Homo sapiens: one gene and its partners. The protein of the gene in region 1 interacts with the protein of each later gene in a pairwise test. Each region holds a gene or a part of one and is shown on either strand. Other genes may lie near its edges. The genes, in order: SERTM1, KCNJ6, MTIF3 and TMEM19.

The links.
Region 2: the proteins of SERTM1 (region 1) and KCNJ6 interact in binary tests that used the Homo sapiens proteins (3 or more experiments, as listed by UniProt).
Region 3: the proteins of SERTM1 (region 1) and MTIF3 interact in binary tests that used the Homo sapiens proteins (3 or more experiments, as listed by UniProt).
Region 4: the proteins of SERTM1 (region 1) and TMEM19 interact in binary tests that used the Homo sapiens proteins (3 or more experiments, as listed by UniProt).

The regions. Positions count from the first base shown.
Region 1 is NC_000013.11:36,679,438-36,685,798, forward strand, and holds part of SERTM1 (serine-rich and transmembrane domain-containing protein 1), read left to right. Parts: intron 1-2,757; exon of another isoform or gene 2,758-2,849; intron 2,850-6,361.
Region 2 is NC_000021.9:37,908,652-37,915,012, reverse strand, and holds part of KCNJ6 (G protein-activated inward rectifier potassium channel 2), read left to right. Parts: intron 1-6,361. UniProt on the Homo sapiens protein: Inward rectifier potassium channels are characterized by a greater tendency to allow potassium to flow into the cell rather than out of it.
Region 3 is NC_000013.11:27,434,054-27,439,625, reverse strand, and holds the end of MTIF3 (translation initiation factor IF-3, mitochondrial), read left to right. Parts: intron 1-2,352; coding exon 2,353-2,510; intron 2,511-3,732; coding exon 3,733-3,951; 3' UTR 3,952-3,983; downstream 3,984-5,572. Other genes in the region: GTF3A (transcription factor IIIA), read right to left, coding at 4,029-4,193, 4,434-4,493, 4,592-4,821, 5,407-5,487. UniProt on the Homo sapiens protein: IF-3 binds to the 28S ribosomal subunit and shifts the equilibrium between 55S ribosomes and their 39S and 28S subunits in favor of the free subunits, thus enhancing the availability of 28S subunits on which protein synthesis initiation begins.
Region 4 is NC_000012.12:71,692,582-71,698,942, forward strand, and holds part of TMEM19 (transmembrane protein 19), read left to right. Parts: intron 1-3,854; coding exon 3,855-3,992; intron 3,993-4,698; coding exon 4,699-4,953; intron 4,954-6,318; coding exon 6,319-6,361.

The DNA of each region.
Region 1 (6,361 bases):
CTCTGTCACCCAGGCTGGACAGTGCAGTGGCGCAATCTCGGCTCACTGCAACACCTGTCTCCCACGTTCAAGCGATTCTCCTGTCTCAGCCTCCTGAGTAGCTGGGATCACAGGTGCCTGCCACCACACCTGGCTAATTTTTGTATTTTTAGTAGAGATGGGGTTTCACCATGCTGGCCAGCTGGTCTTGAACTCCTGACTTCAAGTGGTCCACCCGCCTTGGCCTCCCAAAGTGCTGGGATTACAGGTGTGACCCACCGCACCTGACCTGCTTAGTTACCCTTGAACACATTTTTTTCTGTGTATTAATGATGTCATATCTTTTAGTGTTAAGTATTTGTGTGCGAATAAGTGTAAGAAAATAATTCCTATGAGTAGCATATAAATTCAGTCAGGAATTATGGTGATACCAAATAACCACAAATTGTTCACATGGGTGGCTAAGATAGTGACATTTTTGCTTTCTGATGGTTCAACGCACACAACTTTGTTTCATGCAAAAAAAAATATTAAACATATTGTATAAAATTACCTTCAGCCTATGTGTATAAGGTGTATATGAAACATAAATGAATTTTGTGTTTAGGCTTGAGTCCCATCCCCAAGATATCTCATGTATATTCAAATATTCCAAAATCCAAAAAAAAATTCAAAATCAGAAACACTGATTCCAGAGCATTTTGGATAAGGGATAAGGGATACTCAATCTGTACCCTCTGCCATTCTCCTCAAGGCAAAACTGTCGTTCTAACAACTACTCATGGGAAAGTCTTTGGTGAGCTTGGATGCTAGTCTCAGACCTTCAGAAAGACTCCTCGCCAACAAAATGGGTCTAGTTGAATGGAATGAGTTTCTAAGATCTTTCAGTCTGTTCAAGTGTCGCCTTATTATCCCTGTCGGTTTTGGCCTTACATTTTTCCACTGAACTCCCTGCTTGGCACATATTTTGATTCATATGATGAAAAGCCTCTGGATTAAAAAAAATTAACTTCTTTTTTGTCTGCCTTCCTCTTGTTAGCCACTCAGCTCAGCTCTGAGTATAGAGTGGATTTAGGGTTGGAAAGGGGGTGCTAGGCCCTCAATTTGTGGTCTCTTTCACTAGCTGGAGTTCCTACTACATATCCTTTTTCAAAAACAAGTGACATATAAACAATGACCTTCAAACTTCACTTAACTTTTGGGGGTGTCATTTTCCTGATTGCTAAAGACTTGTAGCTCTCTGATTCTATGAAAATTTTTTTCTTTTGTTGTTATTGCTGCTTGTGTGGTTTTTAGTTTTCAATGGTTTTACTTTGTTGTTGTTGTTGTCGTTTTGTTTGTTTGTTTCTGGTTTTGAGACGGAGTCTCGCTCTGTTGCCAGGCTGGAGTGCAGTGGTGCGATCTCTGCTCACTATAACCTCCGCCTCCCGGTTCAAGCGATTCTCCTGTTTTTTAATAGGGGAAAGTTAAGATTTAGAGGGACTATAAAGGAAAACAAAAGAATAAATCAGGTACCTAGTACCTGCTATATATTTGCAGTTAGTTGTACGATGAATGAAAAAAGAGAATATTTGCTTCTCTTGTGCTCATCTGTTTTCACTCCTCTTATTATTTTCCTAAGAAGCTGAGGTTTTTGGATTAGTTCCCTGGCATAGTGCTGGTAAGGAGATTGCTGCTCACATCACCATGGCTATGATCTGCGTCAAGTACTACTCGAAGCACAGTCCATGCACCAGCGCCCATTTGAATTATTACTTATTCGTCATGAGATACAGAACTCGTGCCAGAATATAAATCAAATAAGGTACTAGGCATACTTTTTAGTTTAACTATTTCCTTTCTTTCTTTTTCTTCTTTTGTAGCAAGACTTTCTTGATGAAGGAAGCACTGTATTTATTGCAGTTTCCTCATCTCACAGGGACCTGTAACCAACATGCCACTGAGGGAGCCAGGTGGCTACTTTGAGTAGCCCAGATCTCCAAAGTAGCACTTTGTAGTCAAATTGAACATTTGATAAAAATGTAAACATTTTCTTTTTCTGTGCTGATTTGCTATTGAATTTTTCAAGCTGTTTTTGTTTCATTTTGGTTTGGTTTGGTTTAGCATTGAGATGGAGTAGCTAACAATCCTATGGTATGTGATATTCCTGAATGTAGTGAATTATAATAAGCTTCCCCTACAATGATCATGAAGTGGGGATTTTCCTTGACCCTTTTTATTTCCACAGATGAGCACAGTGTCATAGGTTGTGATGATAAAGGATTTGTGATTTTCAAAGGATGGAATTATCATGGAGTTTAAGAAATTCTTTTAAAAATGCATTCTGGGTCATATTCAGCCAGAGCTTCATAGTCTCACTATGGTAAACTCTCTTGATTTTTATTGTGCCCTTCAGAATACATTTGTTACAACCCTCCAGCTTGTTCACAAGAATGTATTTCAGTATTTCCAGCACACTCCTCCATCCTTTCCTCAATTATCCTGGTGAACAGTTGACCAAATAAAATCTTAGCTTTCTTAGACATTGTTGAAAGACACAGTTGGTTGATTTTTAAAAGTATGGGCATAGTTTGCCCTGGAACCAGAAACTATTAATTTTATTGCCATAATTGAAACACTTCTAAAATTTAGAGAGCATTCATCATCATTATTCTTTACTGTTGATGCTTACCCCCTTTGAGTAATCTTTATGATTTTACACAAGATCATTTATTCATTTGTTAAATAAACATTCTTTTGCCTGTAAAGACAGAATAAACATGAGCTATCTCTCCAAGAAGCTTCAAGTTTCTTTATTCCCTTATTCTTTCATTCATGCAGCCATCTAACAAATGCTGATTGATCATCCTTATGCCACATTCTGTACTAGTCTGTGGATATAAGATAGGTGAATTGTTATTTCTTTATTCTAGGACTTCCCAGTTTGTTAAAGCAGATAGGTAAATAAATGTAGTAAGTATAATAAAATGTGAGAAATGCTAGTGTAGAAAGGTACAGAAAGTATGCTGAGAATGCAGAGGAGGGAGCCAGAAATTTGCATAGAGAAAGTAGGTAGGGATTTCTATTAGGTGAATAATAAGCAGATGAGACAGAGGATGGATGGCTTGAGTAGAGACCTGCAGTGAATAAATTGGATTTGGGTTCAAGTTAGGGAGAGGATATGTACACATATAAGGATTGAACATAAGTATTTTTTTAACTGGAGAATTGAAAACAGCATGTTATGCCTGGAACGCAAATCTTAGGTACAATGGTAAAAACGAGACTGGAAAAGTAGCCTGTGGCCAGATCATAAGGGACAGACCATATAAGAGAAGTCTTAGATTTCTCACTGTAGCTGGCAACTATACAAATTATAGATGCATTAGACTCATGCACATAATGATAATATTCTACCCCTTCCTGTACATTGTTAAGAAATATTTGTTCAATGTATGATTGAATGCAGCAAATACTATAGTTTTTCTTTTTCTTCTTTCTTTCTTTATTTATTTGTTGAGATGGAGTCTCACACTGTCTCCCAGGCTGGAGTGCAATGGCATGATCTCTGCTCACTGCAATCTCTGCCTCCTGGGTTCAAATGATTCTCCTGCCTCAGCCTCCCAAGTAGCTAGTTTTTCTTAACCAAAAACAATACCACTGACCCTTGTACGATGAGTTTTTTTTTCCACTAGGAGTCATGAGTTAGTCTTAATATTCTTATTGCCTCTCACCTGTTCCCATTTGAAACCATTTGGCCTGTTTAAGTGACAGCTGGTCAGGATTATCCTTATACAGTAGCAGCTCATCATATTTGAGCTTGTTAAGGAACATGTCTTTGGCACTACCAGTAGCTAAATCTCATGCCCTTAAACCTAACACTTCTATGAAATTAAAGCTAACCAAAACAGCCTTGAAAACCTTCTTTCTCACCAGTGCCAAAATAGAGTTTTAATATATTACATACACAATTCATACAACTCTCAATTATTCATAATTTGACTTATTTATGGTCAAATTCTTACAGACCCATAATAAACTCAGCCATCAAAGTATAGTGAGACCTTATGTTAGTTAGTAGAAGGAGAATGATGCTACAGTAACAAATAAGCCCCAAATCTCAGTGGCTTAAAACAACAAAAGTTTATTAATGTTGACATAAGTGTCAATGGGGCCAGCAAGGGGTGAAGATACTCACTGTGGTCACTCAAGGATGCAGACTGATAGACATTGGCAGGTACTTACACCATTACACAATAACTGCAGCAGAGGGAAGAGGTGTGGCAAGTCTCACACTAGGTCTTACATTTTCTATCCAGAAGGGACATGTCACCTTTCATACATTTCATTGGTCAAAATAAGTCATACAGTCACCCTAAATTCAGAGGGAGTGGGAACATGAAATCCTACGACAGGCCTACGAGAAGGGACATCAGAAATATTTCGTGAACAGCACTAGTGACTACAAGTCTCAAATACATTCCTCCTCAACCCACAGTCTCCCCAGAGAGAAGGAATGGAATGAACATACAATTTGGAGACGGAGAGATGTAGTTTGAATTCCAGCCCTGCCTCTAAGTGGTTGGGTGAGCTTGGACAAGCCTTTAAATTCTCTGAGCTTGTGGGGCGCAGTGGCTTACGCCTGTAATCCCAGCACTTTGGGAGGCTGAGGCAGACATATTTCCTGAGCTCAGGAGTTTGAGACCACCCTGGGCAACATGGTGAAACCCCGTCTCTACTAAAATACAAAAATTAGCCGGACGTGGTGGTGGGTGCCTCTACTCCCAGATACTGGGGAGGCTGAGGCATGAGAATCGCTTGAACCCAGGAGGCAGATGTTGCGGTGAGCTGAGATCGCACCACTGCACTCCAGCCTGGGCGACAGAGCGAGACTCTGTCAAAAAAAAAAATTCTCTGAGCTTTAATTTTCTCATTTGCTAAAAAAGATGATGGGAGATAATACTAACTGACTTAATGAGTTGTGGCGATTAAAGAAAACACACATACATATACAGACACACATCCAAAATTGGTACATGCTTTTATTTGATAAATACTAGCAGCCATCATTTATGTTACTCTGGTTCTTTTTTCTCAAACTGATTTGTCTGCACATTCTTTCTCCTCCACAAGCATCCTGGGTTTGCCTTCCTCTGCCAATCATGCTCTGAAGACAGACTGCTACTCCTCAATGACTTGGGGATGCCCTCACTACCTCTTTCCTCTCTCCTGTACCTCTCATCATTCTTCTGCCATGATGTGTCTCTGCATCCCAGCTCAAACCATTGAAACGAAAGAGAACTGATACTAGATGTAAAAATAGTGAATAATGGGTGAAAGTGTAGGCTATTTCTACAAATGAATTAAAAATGCAGAGCTCACATCATCTAAAAGTAAGGTGAAGAGCTCAGCCTTGATAAAGGACTGTCAAAGTCAGTTAAATCTTGTACTAAAGATTATCCATAATTTCCTTGAGTGAAAACATATTTATTTATATTTTTAAAAGAATGTGTAACTATCTTCTATAGGTCACTACTTTGGCAGTCTGTTTTCCACAAATAATTCCTAATTATTTTTCAGTTTCACCTTCTTACATTTTCAAATTGAAATACGCTCTGGGAGAATTTGAGCCTACACTTGTCTATTGCTTCCATATTGTCTTTGACAGGCTCTGGTCTTGAATCGTTATCTAAAATGACAACAGGCTGCTGAAGACTTGATTTCCACCCACACTTGATAGCCTGCCATATCATTTTGTTCCATGTTATGAGGAACATGTAGACATTTTCTTTATTAACCAGACTTTTGAGTTCGCTGTGCCGCCTGTGAGAGAAACAGAGAGCATTGGCAGGCTCGGCCGCTGTGTTCACACTGAGGATTAGCAGGACCACGGGAAACCCACATGGGAAGGTGCTTTCCTAATGAAGGACACAACGTCCTCTTTCTGTTTTCTCCCTTCCCAGGTGTCCTTGGAAATCCAGGTAGATGAGTAATTTTGCAGCCATGAGAGAGCACTTAGTCTCCTTGTATAGATCGTGTTTTATGTAACCTCTGTCTAATATCAGATTCATCTGGCACTGACAATTTCAGGTCCCTACCTGTATCCTCAGTCATATGATTGGTGATGACTGGGGAAAAGCACTATTCATATAAATGTTTCCTATTTTTTAAAATTGCAGCTGCATTTTGCCATGACTAGCTTCAATTTCTGAACTGTTCATTGGCCCCTATGACAAAAGACTCTGCCCTGGACTGTAAGTGAGTTCATGGGATCAAGTTTAGACTCTTGCTACACTAGAGAACTCACCCAAACCAAGGTGATTAAGGAGGTGATTAAGGCTAGTTATAAGAGTTGTAAGGAGTGTGAGCCTTTTTATCTGTGGAACTTGCTACTTGCAGCCTC
Region 2 (6,361 bases), on another chromosome or scaffold:
CCACAGAGGGTGAGGTTAGTGGAGAAACAAAATACCAGAATTTTCCAAAGAATTCCGCCTCCAACCCCCAAAAAAAGGAAGAGAAAAAAAAAAAAACCCCACAACTCCAGTGTTTGGGAGTTGGAGATGTATTATATGTTTAGAGTGTTTCCCAACTGCTGTTATCCAAAGTCTGTCGGTCCCGGGGAGCCCTACGGTACAGGGAGCAATGCCACATCCTGCTAGCCCTGTTCCCTGCCTGCCTTTCTTTTGCTGAAAAAAAGAAACGGAAAAGGGTGATGCCCAGGAACTGCTTAGGGAGAAAAAAGGGCTTGCTACAGTCAGGGCTGAGCTAACTGAGCTTCGCCCATTTTGCCTGGAGAAAGAAAAAGAGCTCGAGTCTCCATGGCGACCCAGGTGGGAGGGGAGACCGCAGCTCCAGTTATAGGGGAAAAAAATTGGACAAAACTTTCCCGGCTCCAGGCAAAGGAATACGCCAGCCGCGTGCCCTGTGGCGGGTCCCAGGGCATCGGTTGTGCCCAACTCCCTGACGGCGACGCTCGAGAGGGCGCCCAGAGCTGGCCGGGTGCCCCTGAAACCTCCCGAAAGTTGCCTGGGGGCCGCCGAGGTGGTGGTTCCTCAGCGGGTTCCGGATTCAGCACCAAGGCCAGAGCCCAGGCGCCGAGGGTGAAGCCTCACCTGTCTGCAGCCCCCAGCAAGCAGTACCCACTCCTTTGGTCGCTGGAGGTCAATCACTTTCTATAAATAAATGAGTCTTTGGCTCGTGCAGAATCTGGATATCAAATTACCCACGGAATTACGTGAGGCAAAGAAGCTTGCAAATCATCCATTTTATGCATGGCGGTGCATCAGAGGACCTATTCAGAATCAAGAACACTGGGACAGGGAAAGACCTGAGCTGAACTGAGAGTGGAGACAGGATTCTGTCCTCAGGGGGAGAAAAAGGACGCGCGCGCGCACAGACACACACACACACACACACACACACACACACACACACACACCCCGATCCGCCTCTGACGAGGGTTGCTAGTTTCAGCTGAGTCCCTTTGGCTTTCAAAAGCATGCATCCCTTGCCCTCTCACGCTCTTCTCTTTAACTTTTTGTTGGGCATAGATGGCAGAAGGGAGCTGTGGAAGCACCCTGGTCAGCGAGAGGCCAGCCAACCAAGTTTGTTATTTCTTTCTTTCTTTTTTAGACGGAGTCTCGCTGTGTCACCCAGGCTAGAGTGCAGTGGCTCGATCTCGGCTCACTGCAACCTCTGCGTCCCGGTTTCAAGCGATTCTCCTACCTCAGCCTCCTGAGTAGCTGGGATTACAGGCGCACACCACAACACCTGGCTAATTTTTGTATTTTTAGTAGAGACGGGGTTTCACCATGTTGGTCAGGCTGGTCTCGAACTCATGACGTTGTGATCCGCCTGCCTCAGCCTCCCAGAGTGCTGGGATTACAGGCGTGAGCCACCGTATCCGGCCCAGCCAAATTCTTTCTAAGGGTCCTAGGACTGAAGAGGGTGGAGATATAGTTTCCTCTCGGTCTAGAACTGGAAGGAATCAAAACAACACTGGTGAGCTTCCGAAAAGGAGAGAGAGTTTGTTAGCAAGATGAGAGCCAGTGATCACATCTTCAAGCCTGCGTGTGAGCAAGGTGGCTACATTTCCTAGGTTGCAGTCGTAGGAAACCGAGAGGAGTCACTTCTCTTAATACAAACAAGGAAGAAACTGCAGGAGGGGAGGATTTATTACCATTCAAGTTCCATTTCAACATTCATACAGGGAAAACAGGTAAGTCCATCAAGCCCTTCTGCTCTCACTTTACGAGAAGCTGGTCTTTGCCCTGCTCTCATCCTTGGTAGTAGGTCCCCCACCACCACAACTGTCACTGATATGAAGAGGAAAAATAATACAGGAAGGTGACAGTCATATTTGAAATAGAATGCCTGTCAGAGTGCCATCCAGGTGTTACAAGGTATACTTTGAATTGCAGAGCCCAGTCAAGGTTTGGCAACTGGTTGGAAATGTTGATAAAGCTTCAACAATATCCCTGGCTGCTTTCCTGTTTTGTGGATGCACTTGTGCATGAGGTCTTGAGCTGGTTCTGGTTTGTTATTTTTAATGGTAAACAAGATATGATCCTGGTTTTCCTTGCTGGGCTTTCCAAGTGTGACATGTTGTTTCTAAAGATATTGCATGCTGAGCACTCAGGATGTGGTTAAAGCAGTGTGTTTCTACCTTCCAGTCTTTTCAAATGATTGCTAGTGAAGACAGAGCAATCTATTTCAAACCTAAGCAAAAGGATGAGTTATTACACTATTTCTTACATTTCAGTTCCTGATAGGTATTGACAAGTTTATCCATAATTTAGTTTATGAAAAGGTTGCTACCTAAAGTAGACAGAAGAAGTGACACGTGGAGTATTAAACAACGCAGCTGTTCCTTGGCCTTGTTCCATCTGACATTATCAGCAGAAGGGAAGTAGACGTTCATTATGAGGATGAAGCTATACGAGAATATAGACTGTTAGATAAACAAAGTAATGTATTTCTGAGTTCTAAAGTTCAATTTCTCTAATAAATTAAAAAGGGGGGTGGTGTCAATAATCTAGGTATATGAAATTGTTCAGTCAATAATCTTTACTTCTGGTAGTTTCCATGCTCACATATTCAGTGCTTATTCACCGAACTATGACTTGCTTTCTTCCTAGGTGGCTAATTGATTAACAAAGTGTCACTATGCCCTTTTCAGTCAATAGCATACTCCAAAATAATTGGTTTACTCATTTCAAGTAAGATTTGTTAAGGAGAGCAACTTGTGAAAATTCGCCCCCATTCACTTGGTTCCATTTTGCTATTTTAAAAAATCATTTTGATACCTCTTCTAGGTATTGCCTAAACAATAGTTACCTCATCTAGATATTGCCTAAACATTAGTATGTTTTCCTTTGTGTGAGACAGGTCTTTATTTAATACATAGGACTTACATGAACTATTTTCCTTGAGAATATAGAAGGGCTTTTAACTCAGTCTCATATTCCTCCCTATCATCTCAGTCTACCTCTACTTTATAGGGAAAAAAATTAGAATAGTTATTTAAGAAGTTATAGAAAAAATTCATTGGAGATTAAAAATAAAATACCCTTATGGAATCTTAACCCCATTCACTGATTTTCACAGGTAGAAAATGTTGCTGTTCTCAAGGGTTTAATGTTGACCATGTAAACCTTAATGAAAACAAGATAAATGCTCTTTATGGAAAGGCAGGCAGATAAGGTGAAGCTCTTCTCTTTTTCACCAGTTCTTCCTTTATCAAATGATATGTAAGTAATATGGAAATGGAAATGGACCAGAAATAGGCAGAGTAGGAGGAAAGAAGAAAGTGAGGGGAAAAGGCAGTTACTTATTGCTACCAGCTTTAAACTGACAATACTTTTCAAAGTGAGGTTGGTTTTTCTAAGTTCATTGTATTAGAACTTTAAGTTTGGTGGAATTAAGATGTTTAAATTCAGTGAATTTGGATTTATAGCTTATTGAGATGGCATTTCTTGTTTCTTCATTTTATCTTCAATAATTGGCATTTAAGTACCAAAAGATAATTGATTCACTCTGGAGTTTTACAAAATTATTAACTTTGGTAATACCAGTAAGGGGGAAATTGGCAGTTAAGTTGAAAAATCATCAAAACACTTTTGTTGAGTTAGTTTTCTTTTTAATTTTAGTGAAAGTATTTGGAGAGATAGAAGAATAAAATGTAGCTGTTTAGGATAAAAATACATTTTGAAGTGCATTTTAAATAATTATTTCTAGAAATAATTAGGCTCCAATAAAAAGAAGAGATAATCACAATTGCAGTTAGTGCTCTAATGGTATTCTGAATTTCCTCTGGCAAAGTACTAGAATATACATATACTTGCTATCATTTTAATAACATTAAATAATAGTGAAATTATTTTCCTCAAAGAGCGGTCTCATCATTAAAAGAAGAGTCTGTATCCTCTCTAAACTATAGCTTTGATCTAATCATACCTGCTAATCAGTTGTAAATATTCATTTATTTATTTGTTACTAAATTGAATCATTGTTTAAACAAAACCTCAGAGAATGATTTTGTGCAGTGTGCAATGTTCAAATGGTCATTCAGATCTGATTTTATATGGAATGCAGTAAGGCCATCAATCAATTTTCCCAATTACAATGTGTAAAGTTAACCCTAAATTTTAACCAAGTGACTAATTTATGTCTATACAAATGTATCCAAGTCAGATTAAACCCATTATCTCCTTGAGTCTCATGCTTCTCATTTTTTCTGTATGGCTGTGCTTAGGACCAGGAATCATACAGTACTGGTGATTCTTTTAGTGAATAGATTTTGGCTAACATGTATCACCGGTCTTATTCCCAGTCACAGAGATGTGGTTTCCGACATGAAATCCTTACAAAAGGAACCAGAAAGTGCATCTGTGGCTAAAAAGATCCATGTCCTTGCCAACAACTGTTCTGTGGGACTAAATCTGAAGGTATTATATGCAATGTGAGAGACATATCTATAAATTAAGTTTAAATCCTGTGGCAGTTTCCTCTTTAAACTTACAGACATCTACTTTTTTCTTATCCAGGATAAGAATTGATTTTTTTCATGATGCTTTAAATTTCTCTTGTATCATCTAGCAGGAACTTGTGCAAGTTTGACAATGTGCTTGGTAGGCGGTGTTGCTCCGTGATTAAGAGCACAGGCTCCGGTGTTTCTTACTAACTGAATCTGCATCAAGGTCTAGGTGTATCTGTCCATTTTTGCCAAGTTTGGGGCAGTAACAGCAACCCCAGCATCTCAGTGGCTTACAAAACAAAGGCGTATTATTCTCTGGAGCGCTATGCCTCTGCTGGTCAGCTGTGGCTCTGCTCCTGTGACTTCATTCTGGAATTCAAGATCAAGAATTGGTCTGGAACACTCTATCCCAGTATCAGAGGAAAAGGAGACTCCCAAGTTAAGCAATGGCCCTTAACATTTCTGCTCAGACATGGCACAAGTTATCCACTCACATTCCATTGACCGGACAATTCACATGTCACATCAGTGTCAATGATCAATGGGAAGGAGATGTATATTTCTCCCACAGTGAAGCACTGCAAGCCGTGCAGCAACAGGTAGAGACATCTAATCTTTCAGAGAGGGAAGAGAATAATTGGAGGCAATAATATAATCCACTATGCTAACTATGTGACCTTAATCAACTTTATGCCTTGCTTTCCCTATCATAAAATAATAACAATAAGAGTAATAATAACAACATATACCTCAGAGATGTTATGAGGATTCATGTGATAATGTAAGTAAAGTTCTTAGCACAGGCCAGGAGCGGTGGCTTACACCTATAATCCCAGCACTTTAGGAGGCCGAGTCAGGTGGATCCCTTGAGGCCAGGAGATGACTTGAGACCAGCCTGGCCAAAGTGGCAAAACCCCATCTCTACTAAAAATACAAAAATCAGCCAGGTGTGGAGGCACATGCCTGTAGTCCCAGCTACTCAGGAGGCTGAGGCACAAGAATTGCTTGAACCCAGGAGGCAGATGTTGCAGTGAGCTGAGATCACACCACTGCACTCCAGCCTGGGTGAGAGGGAGACTCTGTCTCCAAAAAAAAAAAAAAAGTTCTTTGTGCAGTGTCCAGCACAAAGTAGGCACTTTAAAAATAGCAGATGTTTTTATTCATTTATTGCAATGTGGCATTAACTTCAGTTCTTGATGAGCCTGTGTATACTGTATTAATTAGAAAGTTCTTGAAACAGAAAATATCTAAATCTCACTAATTTAACAAAATAGAAGATTTCTTTCACATAAATCTAATTGGTTGATGCCGTACAAGGACCCAGGCTGAGGGACACTTTGTCATCTTTAGTACATGGCTTCTAAGATCTGCTGAGTGGTGATATCCAACTAGCAGACAAGGAAAGAGGGAGAGTAGATGATTATGTAGAAGATTTTAATGATCCGGGCCTAGAAGTAATGTATATCACTCCTATTCATATTCTATGGTCATACCTAACTGCAAGAGCAGCTGCAAATTGTAGTTCAGCTCTATATCCAGGAGGAGGGAAACTGGTAGGGTGAACACACTGGAGTCTTTGGTATGCATGCCCGATATAAATGTCTGGCAGCAAAGAAATACAGCTAATGTGAATCAGGATAGAGTAAGGCAGAGGAAATGATTTGTCCCAGTGGTGAAAAGATTCCTGGTAGAGACAATATTTCCTGGTGCCCTTGAATCATTCTTTAGTGGTGTATTTTTTTAAAATAAATTAGTTGGGATATGTTGACTTTTGGAGTAGGTGTAGATGATTCTTAACAAAAGAGATGCAAATACATATT
Region 3 (5,572 bases), 9.2 Mb from region 1:
GGGTACATTCAAGTTCCCTGCCCTCTGCCGGGCCACTCATTTAACCTCCCTCCTTTTGTTTTTCTTCCCCTTCTTCAACTCTAAAGTGGAGGTGTTTGGTTAATTATCTGGAAGCACCTTTTTATTTTTTTGAGATGAGTCTCTGCCTGCCGCCCAGGCTGGAGTGCAGTGGTGCGATGTGTGCTCACTGCAACCTTCGCCTCCCAGGCTCAAGCGATTCTCCTGCCTTAGCCTCCCCAGTGGCTGGGATTACAGGCGCCCGCCACCACGCCCGGCTAATTTTTGTATTTTTAATAGAGAGGGGGTTTCACCATGTTGGCCAGGCTGGTCTTGAACTCCTGGCCTTAAGTGATCTGCCCTCCTCGGCCTCCCAAAGTGCTGGGATTACAGGCGTGATCCACTGCGCCTAGCCTGGAAGCACCTTTTCGACTCTGAAGTGATTCACAGAGCATCTCCCATGCCAAAGCATTGTGTTGCAATATCAGTAGCAACACTCTTAGATATACAACCAGTCACTTGACGAGGCACTTGTCATTTAAGCCTCACAGAAGTCAGGAATTGGATATTAAGCAAAGATGTTTGTTTTTCATAGTTCCTAAAAAGTGCCAATCATTATGAAAGTTCAATGGATGGCGCACGGGGACAGGCATCAGATGACTGCTCCCAGCACTGCATCGTGAGGTTGTGTGCCTTCAGAAAACCACATGTTATCTGCGGCTCAGTTTTGTAATGCCACATTTAACAAGGATGTTGACTGGAAAACAATATTCAGAAGAGACCAACCAGGGAGGATAATGACGTCAAACTATGTCACTTAAAAAAAAAAAGGTCACTGGGCGTGGTGGCTCACGTCTGTAATCCCAGCACTTTGGGAGGCCAAGGCAGGTGGATGGCTTGAGCTCAGGAATTCAATACCAGCCTGGGCAATATAGCAAAACCCCATCTCTACAAAAAATTTTAAAATTAGCAAGGTGTAGTGGTGCAAACCTGTGATCCCAGCTACTTGGGAGGCTGAGGTGGGAGGATCACTTGAGCCTAGGAGGCAAAGGCTGCAGTGAAGAACCATGATCATGCCACTGCACTTCAGCCTGGGTGACAGAGCGAGACCCTGTGTTTAAAAAAAAAAAAAAAAAAAAAAAAAACAGTCTTGCTCTGTTGCCCAGGCTGGAGTGCTGTGGTGTGATTTCGGCTCACTGCAGCCTCCATCTCCTGGGATCCAGCAATCCTCCCACCTCTGCCTCCCACACAGCTGGGACCACAGGTGCACACCACCATGCCTGGCCTTTTTTTTTTTTTTTTTTTTTTGTAGAGATGGGGTCTCGCTATGTTGCTCAGGTCTTGAACTCCTGAGCTCCAACGATCTGCCTGCTTCAGCCTCCCAAAGTGCTGGGATTATAGGCGTGAGCCAGCACACCTGGCCCCCAATCTTTATGATGAACCCTGGTGCATACTCTAGGGTCTATGAACCTAAATGGATCAAACTGCTCAGCAGCAGTGTATGCAGTTTCTCTACCTCCTCCCTCATTTGTCATTTTAATGGTGAGAAATTAATGTGTATTTCACTTTTTTCTTCTGTGAATTGCGTGTTTATATTCCTTTATTTTTCTACGTAGATGGTTTTTCTCCGATTTATAGGGTTCTCTGTTGTGTATGATGGAAAAAACCGTATCCCAGTTAGATTTTTCATTTTGCCTTTTTTTCTTAATGAGTTCCATCCCCTATCCTGAGATCACAAACCATTCTGTCTTTTCTTCTGTTTGTTTTAAAGTTGTATTTTTCACCTGTAGAACATTAGTATACCTGGGGAGACCTAACTTTTTGTCATCTATAAACTTCTCAATTGTCCCAACACCTTTATTGAGTGGCCGGTTCCTTCTCTATAATTTTCCAGTAGGCAGGATTTCTGGAGACAGAGGGCATGAACACAGGATGTAGGGACCCTTACCTGTCCAACAGTCTGGCTGACCCCTTATAGCAAGGAGAGCATCTCAAAAGGAGTGGGTAGTGCACTCCCAGATGCCAACCCACAGCTGATAGATAAGGATGTTAAGTGCACCATGAAGCCAAACTTGATCCTTTAAACGACTATCTTTTGGTGTTCTTTCAACAAACGATGGTTAACAATAAATGGAAGCATTTCAGATTTTAAGTACCCTTCCAGGGCAGGTAAAAAATTGGTACCTTTATGTGTATCTTCCCCATTTGAAAAGACATTTACTGGTCTGTGAAACTGAAAGCCAGATGAGAAGATTGTCAGGTGGCAACCTAGGATTTTATGATGGGCATGTTGGGAAGTTCAGGGTTCACAGTGGACTAGTCAGTAGTCCTTGCACCCTATCTGTTTCAAACCAGGACCAACCCTGAGAAAGGAACTGATTTTGTCTTCAAATATTGGACAACATGATTTGGACACAAAGACTAAACAGATTCAGCAGTGGATTAAGAAAAAACACCTAGTCCAGATTACCATAAAGAAAGGAAAAAATGTAGACGTGTCAGAAAATGAAATGGTAAGTAAAGAAGGTACAAGCCACTGCTTGTGCTTTGGGTCTTCTGATCTAAAAATACAATTGTAGGCCAGGCGCGGTGGCTCACGCCTGTAATCCCAGCATTTTGGGAGGCCAAGGTGGGCGGATCACGAGATCAGGAGATTGAGACCAACCTGGCTAACATGGTGAAACCCCGTCTCTACTAAAAATACAAAAAATTAGCCAGGCGTGGTGGCGGGCACCTGTAGTCCCAGCTACTGGGGAAGCTGAGGCAGGAGAATGGCGTGAACCCGGGAGGCGGAGCTTGCAGTGAGCCGAGATCGCGCCACTGCACTCCAGCCTGGGTGACAGAGCAAGACTCCGTCTCAAAAAAAAAAAAAAAAAAAAAAAATTGTAGAAAATCTGAAATATAAAGACAAAGTGACTGGTAATTCTTCCACCCAGTGATGTTAACAGCTTTCTAGTTTGCTTTTCAAAACTAAGCATACTGTAGATATAGTTTCCATTACAGCGTATTTTGCCATATGAACACATTATTCCTTAAAAGCAATATACTATTGTTTTATAAATTGTAGAATAACCCTTAAACAGGAAAATTAGAAACTTTATAGATTTTTTGTTTCTTCTTTGTACTTATAGGGGCATTAATTACGTAGACTGTCTTCTAGAAAGTGTGTAGTTTCCAATCCCATAAGTTTATGGAATACCTATTTTGCTTTTTTTTTTTAAAAGTTAGATAACTTTATCATCCACTAAGGGTATCCTTAGTAATCCAGCTCCACAGTAGAGTCACTTAAGCATAGGTCGCAACCCAGCTGATGCAGAATTTCTTGAGCCCAGGTATCCATTTGTTTCAGTCACTGAGAGAGACTCTGTTAGGGGCAATAGAGAGTGCTGAGAACTGCTCGGCTGACACCTTGGGGATGAGGAGGTATTTTGCCAATGCCCAAACCCAGTGCTTTCTGTTTGTGGGAGAGGGTAATGCTGAGCCAAACGTAGCCTCTTCGTGCCATGACGAAGTGGAGATTTAAAATTAGGAAGCATTCAGCATGTCAGTTTAGTTACATGGTGTTATTGTACAGATTTCAGTCAACTTAACCAGATACGTATGAACTGATTAGCTAATCACTTAACCGACAGCAGCAATTCAAGGGTGCCAGTTTTTGTGAATGTTCAAGCAGAACATTAGAAAGCACCAAAGCCTCTGATTTTAAATTAATCTTTGGCTGTTTCCCTTTTTTAGGAGGAGATATTTCATCAAATACTCCAGACTATGCCTGGAATAGCTACATTCTCATCTAGGCCACAAGCTGTTCAAGGAGGAAAAGCTTTAATGTGTGTTCTTCGTGCTTTCAGCAAAAATGAGGAGAAGGCATATAAAGAAACTCAAGAGACCCAGGAAAGAGACACTTTGAACAAAGACCATGGAAATGATAAGGAATCAAATGTTCTGCATCAGTAATTTTAATAAAGAAAAGCATGCTCTGAGAGAAAGCTCGCTCCTTGGTCTGCAGTCCTTTAAACAAAGCAGTGCAGTTCTTAGCCAAGGGTAAGTACTGCAACTGTCGAGAGCATCTTGTCTTCCACACAGTTGGGTGACTCTCCGTTTTGACACAAAGATAAGCCTTGCCCTTGTTTCCTTTTGGGAGGGATATATCCACTGAGATGAGAGGCCAAACTCCGTTTTTCACGAGATTTTTTGACCTTTGGGAATAAGGAAGACACACGATTAGAATTCAAAATCAAAACTGTCTGAGTTAATTTTACGATAGTCATATGTACCAGCAGATATAGTGTACAACATTGCTTTATGAGGAAGTAAAGTCTTCAACAGTAGTGCAGACTCAAACAGTAAAGCAGGTGAAAAGAATTCCAAACAGACTCCTTCTGGCCTTAAACAATTTCCACTTGAAAACTAAGCTTGCCTAAGTAGTTTCAACTTACTTTGAGCTTCATTTTCTTCTTGTCAGGATCATGTACAACAGCATGCCTAGTGAGACTTTGCTACAATGAAAGAGAAAGTTATTAATGAAATATTAATATGAAAACCATGTTGTGAAAGCATAGACTATAGGACCATGAGTATGAGGGTGAGTGCTTACTTTCATTGCAAATGTTTTGCCACAGCCAGCATGTTCACACACAAAAGGGCGGCTTTCCTCATGGAAGGAGAGGATATGGCTTTGGAGATTAAACACAGTTGTATAGGTTCTTCCACAGCCTTCTCTTGGACAGCGACATACATCCCTTTCTGGGGCATGAGTTTTCATGTGTTGCTTAAGGTAATCTTTGCGTTTAAATGTTTTCCGGCATACTTCACATAGTATTTCCTCTGGTGGGACAGACAGACAAATTTCACAAATTTCCCCAGATATTACCATTTAGAAAAAATTAATACCTAATATATAAGTAACATTCAGTGCCTGAAACCTGATCACTATATACAAATCAGAAATTCCCAAGGAAACAACCCCAGTTTTTATCACCTAGGAAGTTTGTCTCAATTCTCTGAAGTTCTTAAATGCCACACAGTCATTGTTCACTTGCCAAGAGGCAGGGCTCTCAGGAAGGTGACTGTGGGGAGGTACAGAAAATGAAGCAGACCAGTGTCCTTCCTTGTCCCCCAGTATGCAGGGTACTGTTTCCCAGGCGGTCCCACAGAACAGCAGTGCCTCCCGAAATTCTTCACTACAGACCTGCCACCGCCTTCAGCATGCTAATTGTGCATGGTGGGGTGGCTCAGAGACCTGGCACAGCTCTGCTCACCTTTCCAACAACATCATACCCAGCACTTCACAAAATATCATAGAGAAACCCTTTTACTTTAAAGCACACAGCATTTCACTCTTGAAAAGCACTAAATCAGTTCTGTGGGGACAAACATTTACACCATGCCTGCCATTCATGCCTGCCTTACCTTTATGGGTTTCTCTCACATGTTTCAGAAGTTCCGTCCATGTTTTTGCCACAAAGGAACATCCTTTTTGACATACATAGCCTATTAAAAAAATTGGTGCATTGTCTGTCATGAATACTCAGTGTAAACACTGACCATAACTAGAAAGGAAACTTAGGTGCCTATA
Region 4 (6,361 bases), on another chromosome or scaffold:
AAGCATGTCCTTAACTTACTTTCAGTAGTAACTGATAGTTCTAAAGTCAGGTAGCAAAAATATAATATGCATGTTTCTAAAAATTATCCTAGTGCTATAACATGCCACTTGATCTGCTTGAGCATAAAGGAAATCTGCTAGATTATAAACTCCTTGAGGACAAAGAGTATCTTATGCTTCTGTGTCCCATGTTTCTTTGAATAGTGCTAGATACATAATAGATGATTAGGAATAGATGTAGTCTGATTTTTAAAAACCTTTGCTTTTTTCCTAATTATTTCATTCTATGAACTGTTTATCTTTTCTTCTTTTTTGTAAAAAAAAAAATTATGGCCAGGTATGGTGGCTCACACCTGTAATCCCAAAACTTAGGGAGGCCAAAGCAGGCAGATCACTTGAGCCCAGGAGTTTGAGACCAGCCTAGGCAACGTGGTGAAACCTCGTCTCTACTAAAAATACAAATATTAGCCAGGCATGGTGACAGGTGCCTGTAATCCCAGGTACTTGGGAGGCTGAGGCAGGAGAACCGCTTGAACCCAGGAGGCAGAGGCTGCAGTGAGCTGAGATCATGCTGCTGCACTCAAGCCTGGGTGACAGAGCGAGACCCTGTCCCAAAAAAAAAATTTTTTTTTAGAGGCAGGGTCTCGCTCTATCACCCAGGCTGTAGTGCAGTGATGCAACCATAGCTTAGTGCAGCCTTGAATTCCTGGGCTCAAGCAGTTCGCCTGCCTCAGCTTCCTGGGTAGTAGCGACTACAGGCACGCGCCGCCACACCCAGCTTTTCTTACTGTTTGGAACTTTTTGTTTCCTTAAGGATAAAAAAAAATCTAATGCTGATTTAAAGTATATCATAGTAGTTGGGAATATTATCCTAGAGTATGACTGCAAGTCACTTAAACTCTCAGTGTTGTACTTGTCCTGTCTATAAAATGTGAAGGAATAATGGTATCTATAGCAATGAATTATCATGAAGTGTTATCCATGTAAAATGCTTAGCACAGTACTTGGCATACAAATATTTTATAGATGTTAGTTATTATTACTGTTTTCCTTCCACTACTGCTATTCACAGTGATATAGTTTGACCATGTCTCCACACAAATCTCATCTTGAATTGTAGCTCCCATAATTCCCACATGTCAAGGGAGGGACCTGGTAGGAGGTAATTGAATCATGGGACAGGTCTTTCCCGTGCTGTTCTCGTGATAGTGAATAAGTCTCACGAGAGCTGATGGTTTTGTAAAGGGGAGTTCACCTACACAAGCCCCCTTGCCTGCCGCTATGTAAGATGTGACTTTGCTCCTCATTTGCCTTTGGCCATGATTGTGAGGCCTCCCCAGCCATGTGGAACTGTGAGCCAGTTGAACCTCTTTTCTTTATAAATTACCCAGTTTCAGGTTTGTTTTTATTAGCAGCGTGACAGCAGACTAATACACACAGTTATAAGAAATTTTACTTTGCTACATCATGACTTTAGTGTGTCTAGGATTTAGAAGTAAGAGTTACAGAACTTCCTCAGGATCTGGGTATTTAGAACCATTCATGACAGAAACATATACCTCAGTGTTAAGAGGATTAGGCAGGGGTTCAGTCACAGTCAGTCTCTAAGCTGCACACTGAAGTGGAGGGCTCTGGTCTCTTGGAGAGAGAGCGAGCATTGCCAGAATAAGGAGAGGGTCACATGAGGGGGATTTGTGGCAAAGTGTTTGTGGAAGAGCACAGCAAGAGGGGGTGTTGTCAGGAAAGGCCACTGGTGGTGCTCTGTGTGGTTTCACAAGGGTGGCCTGACCTCTTTTTGGTCACTATACTTTGGGTCTGGTTTCAGTCTTTCTGAAGTAGAAGCCTCACTCTGTCATGTACCCAGAGTTGATTAGAGCCTAGAAAACTGGTTGAGTGTTGCTCATTGTCATAAAGGATTGCTATATGAGCCAGAATGCCACTTCATTAATCAGATAGAAGAACTACCAGGCAGAAGAACACAAACATCACTGTTCAGGCATGCCCTATTCTTGTAGTCAGGCCACTTGAGAAGTCAGATTATAATTAGAAGGCTGCTTTGGTGAGTACAAAGTCTGAGAAACAGTTATGCAAATCCACAAATCAAAGGTTCCCCTCCCTTGGACATGGTTCAAGAAGTCTGCCAACCTCTGGTTCTTTTGGCCTTCACTTTCTACATTTTGGGCTAGCCAAGTAAATTATTATAGAATATGTATGAAGCAATAGGTGAGCTTTGAGTTTATTAAATTACTATGAAATTCCAGTCCTGCCTTTCTCTTTTATGCCTCCTGGAGATTACCCAGGTCACCCTGGTTGGAATTTGGGGTATAACTCTACTCCCATTGTCAGAAATTTGTAGACAGTGTCATTTTACTCCCCCAATGCTATCTGTTAGGTACAGAATTTACCTGTTTTAGGCTCACAAGGCAACCATAGTCCTCAAGTCTTCAAATTATTTGGGAGTGCCCTATTGTCATATATATGAACCCCTTATCAATGATATTTAGAGATCTGCAGGATGGAGAGGTAGAAAAGGTATGAACAGGAGATAGCAGTTACTAATCTAAAATGTAGACATAGGTAGGAGTTGCCAAAAGTTCCAAGCGATCTTTACACTGCATGAAAGAAACCATTCCCTCAAAGCTTGTCTTGTTCATTTCCTCAATCTGAAGCTGTCACCAACATGAACATTAATTGCTTCATGTGGTATTTTAAGGTGGCTGAAGTAAAAAGGATATAGATGCCATTTGTAACATCTCAGTGTAGGTTGTGTAGGGCTCTTCTACCTTGGGTTTGTTTAGAGACGGTGGAACAAATTGTTAACAGTGAATATTCATGAAGAGGAGGAGGGGAGACACTTTGACTTTCAGTTTGTATACTTCCATGTGTTTTGACTTTCCCCTTCAGTAGTTGCATACAACTTTTGTAATGTTTTAAAAATCAGTTGAAAAAACTTAAAGGTTGGATAACAATATTGTAATATTTATCATTATTATTGTTGAGCTTTTGCCACTGGAACTGTTGCTGTTATTAGTATCCATGATATTAGGTAACACTTATTAAGGACCTCTTACATCCTGGATAATATAATAAGCATATTACAAAAATTATCCCTGACTTTTTACAGCAAGCCGGTAAAGTCAGAATTCTGATTATTCTCATTTCACCAATGCAAAATTGAGACTTAAGGAGGTTAGGTAACTTATCCTAATCTTGAAGAGGTAAGTGAAGGAGCCACAGTTTGAACTCTAGACTGTTCAACTCCAGAGCTGAAGCACTTTGTTATTATTAATACTTTATATCAAGTTACCCTGTTTCTGTACTCTCGATTAAAAGGTACCAAAGTTAAATACCAGTAATTGAGTATCTCTGGAAGGGTCAATGAGTAACTATCTCATTGGTTATGATATCTGAACTTTGAGCTAAGCAATGGAAAGGGTTATTATAGAAAAAGAAGGCCAGGTGCTGTGGCTCACTCCTGCAATCCCAGCACTTTAGGAGGCCAATGCTGGGCAGATTGCTTGAGCCCAGGAGTTTGAGACCAGCCTGGGCAATATAGTGAGACCCCATCTCTATTTCTAATTTTTTTAAATTAAGATAATTTTAAAAATATTATCTAAAATATTATCTTACATTCATATGGCATTGCTTGAAAGGAGATTAAAATATGGTAAAAAATGTGTACTCAAAATGGCATTCAGTTTACTGCTTGCTAAGAATTTAATTGGTAAAATGCAAATTGCTAGAAATGTACATTTCAGGTTATAATATAAAAATAATGGAAAAAATCCATTCTTTTTTCACAGCATTGATGTATGAATTGAATATAATTCTGTGTTTATATATGTTTCTTTCAGGGCTAGTCGTTGGATTTATCCTAACCATTGCAAATTTCAGCTTTTTTACCTCTTTGCTGATGTTTTTCTTGTCTTCTTCGAAACTCACTAAATGGAAGGGAGAAGTGAAGAAGCGTCTAGATTCAGAATATAAGGAAGGTAAAATTATGTTTGATATCATTCAAAATAGTAAACTTCATTTAATCCTAACATAAGGTTTTTTTTTGTTTTTGTTTTTGTTTTTTTTTTTGAGACGGAGTCTTGCTCTGTTGCCCAGGCTGGAGTGCACTGGCGCAATCTCGGCTCGCTGTAAGCTCCGCCTCCCGGGTTCACACCATTCTCCTGGCTCAGCTTCCTGAGTAGCTGGGACTACAGGCGCCTGCAACCATGCCTGGCTAATTTTTTTGTATTTTTAGTAGAGACGGGGTTTCACCGTATTAGCCAGGATGGTCGCAATCTCCTGACCTCGTGATCCGCCTGCCTCGGCCTCCCAAAGTGCTGGGATTACAAGCGTGAGCCACTGCGCCCAGCCAACATAAGCTTTTAATCAGAATGTTGTTTAAACTGTCAAAACACATCAATTTTATATGAGAATTCCTTTAGTAGCCAAATTGAGTTTATAATTTATTTCACAACAATGGGAAATGACAGCAGAATTTTAGAAGCACTAGAGTCTATCATGATTTTTCCAGATTTGTTAATAACAGTATAAAATCTGGGCAAATGTACCATAACACTTTTACTGTTTTTAAATTTTTTTGTTGTTTTTCTTTTCTTAAACTTTAAAACATAAACACCTATAACTGCATGGTTTTTCTTCTAAGGAGGAATCATTTGTTTGTCCTTTTCATCTGTTTGTTTCCAGGTGGGCAAAGGAATTGGGTTCAGGTGTTCTGTAATGGAGCTGTACCCACAGAACTGGCCCTGCTGTACATGATAGAAAATGGCCCCGGGGAAATCCCAGTCGATTTTTCCAAGCAGTACTCCGCTTCCTGGATGTGTTTGTCTCTCTTGGCTGCACTGGCCTGCTCTGCTGGAGACACATGGGCTTCAGAAGTTGGCCCAGTTCTGAGTAAAAGTTCTCCAAGACTGATAACAACCTGGGAGAAAGTTCCAGTTGGTGAGTTTTTTCTTCTTTTTGACCCATTGGTAGACACAGTTGGTGAGTCTTGATTTGAGATTCTTTAAAAAAACCAAAAAACCTCTTGATGTAATGTATTTTAGAGCCTTTTAAGAACTTTATTTAGTCTCTTTAAATAATAATTGGAAAATTTCTGTCGACTATTAAATTGGTAATAATAAATAATATTTGCAGGAAATGTTAGCAAGACCTAGATAAGCAATACAGGAACATAGAGATTGATTTGCAAACATATCAGTAGGGAAGGAAAAGAGAGGGAACAATAGAATATTTATTGAGGGCCTGTTAGGATATCAGTGCTTTAAGATATATCTCAATTCTCCATTATCAACATTATCAACAACTACATAGGTTGAGCATCTCAAATCTGAAAATCCAAAATCCAAAATGCTCCAAAATCTCAAACTTTTTGAACACTGACATGATGCTCACAGGAAATGTTCATTGGAACATTTCAGATTTACGATTTTCAGATTCGGGATGTTCAACTGTTAAGTCTATATAATGCAAATATTCCAAACTCTGAAAAAATTTGAAATCCAAAACACTTCTGGTCTCAAGCAATTCAAGTAAAGAGAATACTCAACCTATACTGCTTCTTTTTGTCCTCTGATGCTTCTCTTCCTCTTCGTCCCCTTCTTTTCTTTCTACCCATCCTATCCCCCATCATCACCTTCTCCTCCTTTTTTTTCTCCTCTTCTTCATCATCATTGTAACAGCTAGCATATTTTAGATACCTACTACAGAGCACTATTCTAACTGCTTTACACGGATTGCCACTTAGTACTCCTAATAATCATATAAATTGGTTCTTTTATTATTTATATCTTATAAAGAAACTAAAGCACAAAGAAGTTAGATAAATTAACTACAGTCACATGGCTTAAGAGTAGCAGAATTGGGCCTGGCAAGGTGGCTCATGCCTGTCATCCCAACTACTAGAGAGGCTGAGATGGGAGGATCACTTGAGCCTGGAGTTGGAGGCTGCAGTAGGCTATGATCACACCATTGTACTCTAGCCTGGTTGATAGAGCAAAACCTTGTCTCTGAAAAGAGAGAGAGAGAGAGAGAGAGAGAGAGAGAGAGAGAGAGAGAGAGAGAGAGAAGCAGAACCAAGATTGAAACCAGGCAGTCTGGCTTCATTGAACCATTCTGCTTCATTGCTTAAAATGTCAAGAGTTACCGAGGAGAAAATACTGTTTTCTAAAAAGCTACAGTCTTTAGATTGCATTAAAGAGAATGCTTTCTTTAAATTAGTCTTGATTAGATAGGTACCTTGCTGTCCTTGCCTTTATGTGTTTGCTGATTATTAACCGGATGATTTTCTGCATGTTTCTTCTTCAGGTACCAATGGAGGAGTTACAGTGGTGGGCCTTGTCTCCAGTCT